Regions from separate parts of the Homo sapiens genome. Here region 1 is linked to region 2. The links come from fine-mapping of genetic effects on gene expression. A gene starts in region 2. The other region holds a variant in brackets. All regions are shown on one strand. Distances are from middle to middle.

What was found. PIP is the estimated chance that this variant, and not a neighbour inherited with it, causes the effect.
Region 1: its variant is the best candidate, but not a certain one, in a credible set for the expression of HMCES in whole blood (INTERVAL, PIP 0.54).

What each region holds. Positions count from the first base shown.
Region 1 is chr3:129,334,436-129,338,820 of GRCh38, forward strand. It overlaps the pseudogene MARK2P3. Among named protein-coding and RNA genes, the nearest start is that of H1-10, 20 kb to the left of the region's middle. The variant G/A (reference allele first, on the strand shown) is at 2,608.
Region 2 is chr3:129,277,054-129,281,438 of GRCh38, forward strand. HMCES (5-hydroxymethylcytosine binding, ES cell specific) reads left to right here and starts at 1,817. Exons shown (of 7, transcript NM_020187.3): 1 at 1,817-1,852; 2 at 2,657-2,862. The coding sequence starts at 2,680. It overlaps COPG1 (coat protein complex I subunit gamma 1), which reads left to right. Exons shown (of 24, transcript NM_016128.4): 24 at 241-720. The coding sequence ends at 371. RefSeq lists silencers at 1,672-2,021, 2,032-2,421 and an enhancer at 2,842-2,971.

The DNA of each region.
Region 1 (4,385 bases), 57 kb after region 2:
CACTGGAGGCCGGCAAGTCTGCAAGAGAGAAATGGAAAAAGAGACAGCTGGGAAGAGCTCTCCTGGGGTTAGAACAAACCTTAATATCTTTTTTGACAAAGAACGTAACATCAAAATAGCCGACTTTGGGTTTAGTTCAACATTTGCAAAGAGAGACTGAGAACGTTTAATGGGACTCGCCCTTACGCAGGCCCAGAACTCTTCCTGGGCCATGGATGGGTACCAATGACCTGCCATCAATGTTTGGAGCCTTGGCATCATCGTATGCAAAATGGTGGCTGGGGACCTGCCATTTTATGAGCAGAACTGTAAGGATATACAGAAAAAAAAAAAAACAAAACTTAAAATAGTACTGCTACTTTTTTTTTTATTTTAATGGAAAAAAATATTTAAAAATTCTTCACACTCAACCCCAGGGAGCAGCTTCCACTGGACCAGCTGTTGAGGGACTCCTGAGTCAATAGCGACCAGAAGACATGGTTCAAGCCATACAGAGAGCCACTCCTGGACCTCCCAGGCCCCACAACAACCCAGCTCATAGTGGCCAGGGGATTCTAGGCAGAGCATATCGAGGAAGCGATATTAAAAAAAAAAAAAAGAAGTCATCCCATGGCCACCTACCTAATCAGGGAGTTCAGAAAAGTGCAGAGGAGAAAGGGTTCCAACATCGGAGCACAATCCCTCCTTCCTGGGGGCCCCACCTGTCCTTCCCCATCTGCCACATTTAAGTCAACCTTCCCTGTCCAACCGAGAGGAGGACTCAAAACCAGCCGACCTTTCCCACTTTCTAATTCACAGAAGCACGAACAGGAGCATCCCTGGGAGTCAGGGCAAACCCTACCTGGCCTGGAGATGAAGCCAGCCATTCCCAGCAAAGCCCCCAGCATAAGCCTGTGACTTCACCCTCCCCAGAGCACCAGCAGCTATGGGGGAACCCCCAAGGAGACTTGTCTCAGGGAACCCACTGGGAAGTTGGCTCACTCCATGTGGAAGACCCAGAAGAGGTGACTTGGTCGGAGGGAACCCCCGGGAAGCCAGATGGTGTAACCTCAATCTCTGTGACCAAAAGGAGCCACGGATGCCATTGGCAAAAGATGTTTCAGTTTCATGCTGCAATTATGTTGTTTCTGACTAGCACAAAAAAGTCAAAGGGAGAAATAAGGCAGCACCAGTGAACCCAATGGACAGCTGGGCCGAGACAAAAACCAAGTGGGTGGGGCAGTCGAGCTACACTTCCTGTGTTTTATTACATTTATTATGTTCTTCTTAATATTATTTTAATTGGCAAATCATGCTTGCATTCATTTATGAGATACAGTGTGAGGATTAGATGGATGTGTGCACATTGGAATGACAAAATCACACTACTTAGCATCTCCATCACCTCAGAAAGACAAATTCCGTGTGATGTCCCTGAAGTGTTCATCTAAAAAAGCTGACCTCATAGAAGTAGCGAGTAGATTGATGGTGAACAGGGGCTGAGGAGCAGATGTGTAGAGGGGTGGCAGAGGGAAGAAATGGGGGGGTTGTTGGTCAAAGGACCAAAGTCTCAGTTGGAAAGGATGAAGAGGTTTTGACATCTAGTGCACCGTAGGGTAACCAGAGTCAATGGGAATGTATTGCCTATGGCAAAACACCTGAGAGAGTCCATGTCGAATCCTGGCATTCAGAATGGAGAAAACAAAGGCCCTGAGGTTCAAGAACATTAAAAACCTTGGGACAAATTGACCATGTGTAGACTCCAACAGCTGTGGGTGAGAACCGGGCAAGATGACGACGCTGCCATGTGCCCAATACACCTGGCCCAGAGGCATTCAGCAGAGGACGGAGGTGTCCAAGCTGCTACCAGGGTCAATGAACAGGATTCAAAAGTCAAGAGGGCATCTGGCAGCCCTGTAGCCTTCAAAGGCCTATCCAAAGCTACAAGTGAGCTGAAGGACAGCCTGGAGCCTCCTGAAGAACAGAGGGCCCCTCCACCCCACCTGGCCCAGGGCACCATCTCTTCCTCCTGTCTGTCCCCTGCTTCCTCTGTGCTGCCGCCTCCCCCTTCCTCCCCACTCAGCTCCCTGCAGTCCTCTCTCCACCCTTCCAAGGTAAACACAGCTTGCTGCTCTCCTGAGGCCCTGCTAAGACTGTGGTTTCTGGTCCCCGCTGAACTCTGGGACTTGATTTCCCTGGCCTTTTCCCCCACCTCCTTTCTGTTTGTCCCAGCCCCACCTCCAACTCCCTCCTCCCCAATTCCCCCTCTGCCATTCCTAATCCCCTCATCCTGATTCCTTTTTGCTACATTTTCTCTAGCTAAATCATCTTTTATTCACTTGCTAATAATCTATCCCTCGGTCTCCTGGATGTCTGTCTTGTGCAACATAGAATTATGAAAATCTAGAAATTGGAATCTAACTCCTGGCCCTAGATAGGACTCAGGTTTTGTGAAAGGGAGAAAACAGCAACAACAACAACAAAAACCAAAAGCAAGCCCCACCAAATCAACACCTAGTCTAGAGCCTGATATAAGTGCCACTCAAAATGTGTTTCCTTCCTTTATTCTTTTTTTTTTTTTTTTTGAGACAGTGTCTTGCTCTATCACACAGGCTGGAGTGCAGTGCC[G/A]CAACCTTGGCTCACTGCAACCTCTGCCTCCCGAGTTCAAGAAATTCTCCCTCAGCCTCCCAGTAGCTGGAATTACAGGTGCCCACCACCATGCCTGGCTAATTTTGTTTTTTTGAATTTTTGGTAGAGATGGGGTTTCACCATGTTGGCCAGGCTGGTCTCGAACTTCCAACCTCAAGAGAGCTGCCCGCATCAGCCTCCCAAAGTGCTGGGATTACAGGCGTGAGCCATTGTGCCTGGTCTCCTTCCTTTATTCAATAACCAGAGAATTCTTCCTGAAAAAGGTGGCCCCTGAGACCATTTGGAAGCATCACAGGGTGGAGGGGCAAGGGTCCTGCGAGCTGGTCTTGCCATCCCTTGTCCCCCAGTTTACATGAAGCCGAGCTCCAGAGAAGAGACAGGGCCCGTGGGGCATTTGGATTACACTCCAAGTCTAATTCCCAGTCCAACAATCCTTCCCGCAGAGGCTTCCTTCATCTGTCCACTTGGCCAAGGAAGGAGCAGGTCAGCTCATGCCCCCTGCCTGGATGCAGACAACAACCATCAGAAGGCCATCCATGTAGCCGGGGCCCCAGAACAATGTCTGCTTGGAAAGGGCCCAAGGAGCTGGAGCCCTTTAGCCTCAAGAAGAGCATGAGGGACCCAGCACCCTTCTGAAACCTAAACCACATTCTGGCCTGAGCCATTTTGCACTGTCTGTGCCCTAGAAAGTTGTGAAGGCCTGTAAGTGGGTCTTCCTGTTTCCTTGTCTTCTGAGGCCCAGGCCTTTCTCAGAGCCTCCGTGGGTCCCACCCCTGCACCCATCACACGGTGTCTGGGCCCTGCCTGCCTGGCTCACACCCCCCACCCCCACTCACTGTCCTATTTCCATCCCTGTGGATGGACATAGGGGACACCGTGCTAGGCACTGCTGTTCTCTCTCTTAGAAGACTTTCATAGGCCCTGCCCGTCCCTTTTGCCAATTGATATCATTTGGCTGTGTCCCCACCCAAATCTCAACTTGGATTGTATCTCCCAGAATTCCCACATGTTGTGGGAGGGACTCAGGGGGAGGTAATTGAATCATGGGGCCAGTCTTCCCTGTGCTATTCTCATGATAGTCTCATGAGATCTGATGGGTTTATCAGGGGTTTCCGCTTTTGCTTCTTTCTCATTTTCTCCTATTGCTGCCACGTAAGAAGTACCTTTTACCTCCTGCCATGATTCTGAGGCCTCCCCAGCCATGTGGAATTATAAGTCCAATTAAACCTCTTTTTCTTCCCAGTCTCAGATATATTTTTAACAGCTGCGTGAAACAGACTAATACACCAATCAAGTGAATGTCACCTCCTCAGAGAAACCCTCCCTGAGCACCCCATCTGCAGTAGGGTCACCTCCATCTTCCACCTTCACTTTTCCTGGTGTTTCCTTCTTTTTTTATTTTATTTTATTTTATTTTATTTTTTTATTGATCATTCTTGGGTGTTTCTCGCAGAGGGGGATTTGGCAGGGTCATAGGACAATAGTGGAGGGAAGGTCAGCAGATAAACAAGTGAACAAAGGTCTCTGGTTTTCCTAGGCAGAGGACCCTGCGGCCTTCCACAGTGTTTGTGTCCCTGGGTACTTGAGATTAGGGAGTGGTGATGACTCTTAACGAGCATGCTGCCTTCAAGCATCTGTTTAACAAAGCACATCTTGCACCGCCCTTAATCCATTTAACCCTGAGTGGACACAGCACATGTTTCAGAGAGCACGGGGTTGGGGGTAAGGTCACAGATCAACAGGATAATAATTTTTCT
Region 2 (4,385 bases):
CCTCATGATCTGCCCACCTCAGCCTCCCAAAGTGCTGGAATTACAAGCGTGAGCCACCGCGCCTGGCTGAGAGACAGTGACTTTCACAGTGAAATCCCTCACTCAGGGATTTCAGCCCAGCTCTCCTGCCCGTTTCACTACACCAGAGCTGCCTTCATGGGTTGCTGCAAATGCCATCCTTAGCCTGCCCTGTACAGTCCCTTCTGCTGTATATATCTGTACTTCTCTCTTCCCTTCTAGGTGTGTTCCGGGGTGGTCATGACATCCTGGTGCGCTCCCGGCTGCTGCTTTTGGACACAGTGACAATGCAGGTGACAGCCAGAAGTTTGGAGGAGCTGCCAGTAGACATCATCTTGGCATCTGTGGGATAAGAGGCCAGCCTGCATAGGACCTCATACCCTTCCCCAACACTACCTGGAAGTTGTGCCTTCCTCATGAAACTGGCAGAAACCCCTTCCCAAGCTTCTGTATTGAAAAACAATTAGGAATCATTGCAGATTTTTTTTTATTCTGCTCCCACCTCCCACCCGGGACTACTTGCTGGTGACTTTTTTTTTTTTTTTTTTTAAATAGGGGATGATTTTAGCTTGTCCTAAATCTTGCTGTCCACCCTTCCAGGAAAGGGACATTGTAAATGAATAAAACATTCTCAACTCCTCTTGAATCTATCCCCCAAGAAACCATCTTATCCCTGTAATAAATCAGCATGTATTTATTGAATGATTGCTACTTCTGCAGACTCATGCTTCAGGGCTCCACCTTCCCCTTCAAGGCCTCCCCTAAAGAGGCAGAACACCTGCCCTGTCCCCCTTGCACCCACAGCCCTTTGGCTGTTGTAGTCCTGTGAGGCAGGACCCTCTCCCCGTCATCGCTGTCCCAGCACCAAGCCCAGGGGTGGGAGCGGTAGAGGGTGGTTGAGTGAATCAGCTAACAGGCAGAGTTCACACTCCCTCCCGTTCGTGCTTCTTCACAACGCATCCTCCTTTGATAGTCGATAAATGGAGGCTCCAAAGGGCTTGGGTCCTGTGTCTGATCGTTCCAGCATCTGGTCTTACATGGAGTGTGCCCTGGGGTTTCTGCTCCCTGTTCAGTTCAGCGAATCAGCATAGGCGAACAGCCCTCTAGAGCATTCTCTGTTGGTTGCAGATGAAGAATCTCCGGTTTAGGTCCCAAGGGGAGCAGGCTTTTAAACTCAAGCCAGGCTATTTTACCAACTTTGAGGCCAAAGTACACCCGAAAGGGCTGTTTTAAAAATCTGGGCCTCACCCTTAGAGATTCAGCTGAGGGGCTGGGGCAGGAAAGGCTTATTCTAGTGCCCACCAATGTTTGAGGGCGAAGTGCGCGATTCCTGGAAGTTCTTCTGACTTTCATTTCTTCAGTGTTCCTCCATTTTTGCCTCGCACTGTGAGGCAGCTGGCAGGACTGTGAAGTAAGGAGTGGAGTTTCCTGGTTTCCCGCCTTCCATGACCCTGTGCCCTAGACTCAGCGCGGCGGGAACCTTCCCTGCCAGCCCTGAAACACGCTGGGGGCGGGGAGGAAGGTTAACCCCGCCAGGGAACGGCCAATATGGAGGAAAGTGGAGTCCCGAGAAGCTTGGGATCGATATGTCTCCCAAGGCAGTCACTGTCTCCTGGGGAAACGGGAGAAAATTCATCCCAAACCGGAGGGGAGAAGACGCCGCCTCCGGGGCCCGAGGGCACCGCGGGAACCAAGGGCCCTTGGGGGCGGGGCCTGGCGCCGGGAGCGCGGGCTGAGGCGGGGCTGACGTGAGGGGCGGTGACGCGGGTGGCCAAAGCGGAGCGGAGCGGGGGTGAGGAGAGTCGAGGGAGGTGACGCGCGCTGCCGGGGCGAGGTGAGGGGAGGGGAGGCGACGCGGGCGGTCGGGGTATGGCGAGGGGAGGGGAGGGGAAAGGAAGCGACGCGAGCTGACAGAGGGGAGCAGAGGCCCGAGCGGACGCGAGGCGACGCGGAGAGGGCGGCCTGGGCCGAAGTGAGGCGACGCGGGGCGGCGGAGTCTGAGGGCCGGAGCGGAGCGGAGGCGACGCGGGGAGGGGCGAGGGATCGCGGCCGGTGGCTGGGGGCCACCTGCTCCCCGAGCACCGGCCCCCGCTCCGGGGAGCAGAGTCCGGAGCGGGATCCGCGGCCCACAGGTTCGCAGGTCGGGCCCGGGGACGCTGCGGACTAGCGGGCGGGAGGCGGGGATTCTGCACCCCGGCCCCGGGCCGTCCAGTGGCCGCCCTCGAGGTGACCGGTTGCTGGCCGGCGTGGGTCGCTGACCCCAGCGGGGACTGGGGGGAAGGACGGGGAGTTGGGGGCACCAAGTCACCCGGAGGAGGCGACCCCAGCTAGCTGCGCTTGCCCTGCTTCGCTGGACTGTGAAGCCCCCTCCGCTGCGGCTCTTCCTGCGCTCAGGCAGGCATTTGCAGAGCTCCTCTCGGGACTTGCCTCAGTGCCCTGCACGGAGCTGGGCAGTGGGCTCAGGGAGCGAAGCAAACGGGCACATCCTTGTCTTTGTGGGACTTTTTGGGGAAGACTTTAGACGGTGGTCACGGAGGGGCACGGCCCTGTGGGAACGGAAAGAGAAGGCGGGGACTCAAGGAATAAGACCTAATATTTGAGATACGTAAGCCTTTTCCTTACGTTTTGTAATTTAAAGGTTGCGAGGGGCGGTGTTGAAGAATGTGTGGGCGAACATCCTGTCACTTACCTAGAGATGTTCTCACGAGAGCTTGCGCCTACCAGGATCGGCGGGGCCAGCAGCGGCTCCCGGAGTGGAGGGACCCTGATAAGTACTGCCCCTCTTACAACAAGAGTCCTCAATCCAACAGCCCAGTGCTTCTGTCTCGACTGCACTTTGAGAAGGTAACCAGCATTGCACTATGCTAGCCCCTCGCCCAGCCTCGTGATGGTCATCTCCTATTTGGTTTGGTGTGTGCTCAGCCTCTTGGGATGACATTAAAAACCAGCCTTTACTGATATATTCTGACTTCCAGTTGAGAACCTCTCTTGGCCTCATGAAAGAAGTTTTATCAGTGGCTTCTAACACTGATAAAGACGTATTTTTCAGGCTCAATTTAAATGCCTTTGCTATACATGGCATACTAGCCTTAATATATGCCAAATTTATATGAGCTTTGTGTTTTAAAATAGCAGCTTTCACTGATCATCAGGGTCATTGGAGTATCTTAAAAATATAATAAAAAAATTTAAGGCCAGGTGCCATGGCTCATGCCTGTAACCCCAGCACTTTGGGAAGCCGAGGTGGGAGGATCACTTGAGCCTAGGAGTTGGAGACCAGCCTGGGCAACATAGGGAGACCCCATCTCTACAAAAAATAAAAAAATGAGGTGGGAAGATCACTTGAGCTGGGGAGGTCGAGGCTTCATGAGCCATGGTTGTACCACTGCACTCCCACCTGGGTGACAGATCAAGACCCTGCCTAAAGAAAAAATTTAAAAAAATAAAAAATTTAAGAATATTTCTATGCCCTTTACCAGGCCAGCTTAATCAGACTTCTCTAGGCCTAGGACAGGCTTAAGATCAGTTAATTTAAAACACTTCTGATGTTTCTTGAGCATTGAAAAGTTTTATTCTTTCTGCTTGTGTTTTCAATCTTTTTGTGTTTGTCTTTTACTAAGGCTAGAAACACGTATTTGGTTTGGTTATCTGAAGTTTAATTGCATTCATTGTGTTTATAGTATTTATCCCTGTAGTGTTGGAATTACCAGTCACTTACATTCATATTTTAGTTTTTTGCCTTATCTCCTGAAAGTGTGTGTGTCTTTGTATGTGTGTGTAATAAAAATGCTTCGTTCTAGAAAGTAATAGTTTCTCCATGTCTTAAATATTTTAAATGACCTTGACATGTTTTTAAAAATCGTGATTGTTGGCTGGGCACGGTGGCCCACGCCTGTAATCCTAGCACTTTGGGAGGTGGAGGCGGGCGGATCACGAGGTCAAGAGATCGAGACCATCCTGGCCAACATGGTGAAACCCTATCTCTACTAAAAATACAAAAATTAGCTGAGTATGGTGGCACGCACCTGTAGTCCCAGTTACTTGGGAGGCTGAGGCAGGAGAATCACTTGAACCTGGGAGGTGGAGGTTGCAGTGAGCTGAGATTGCACCACTGCACTCCAGCCTGGCGGCAGAGCGAGACTCCATCTCAAAAAAAAAAAATTGTGATTGTTTCCTTCCTGAATTTTGACTGTATTTGATTCATAATGCTGAAATCACTTTATAAAGTTGATTATACCTCTGGTACATACTCTTTAAACTTTTGTGATAATATGATAGTCAAAAAGGACTCATTTCTGCATTATAGGGAATCACATCATTTTGAAATAAAGATAACAGGCTGGGCATGGTGGCTCACACCTGTAATC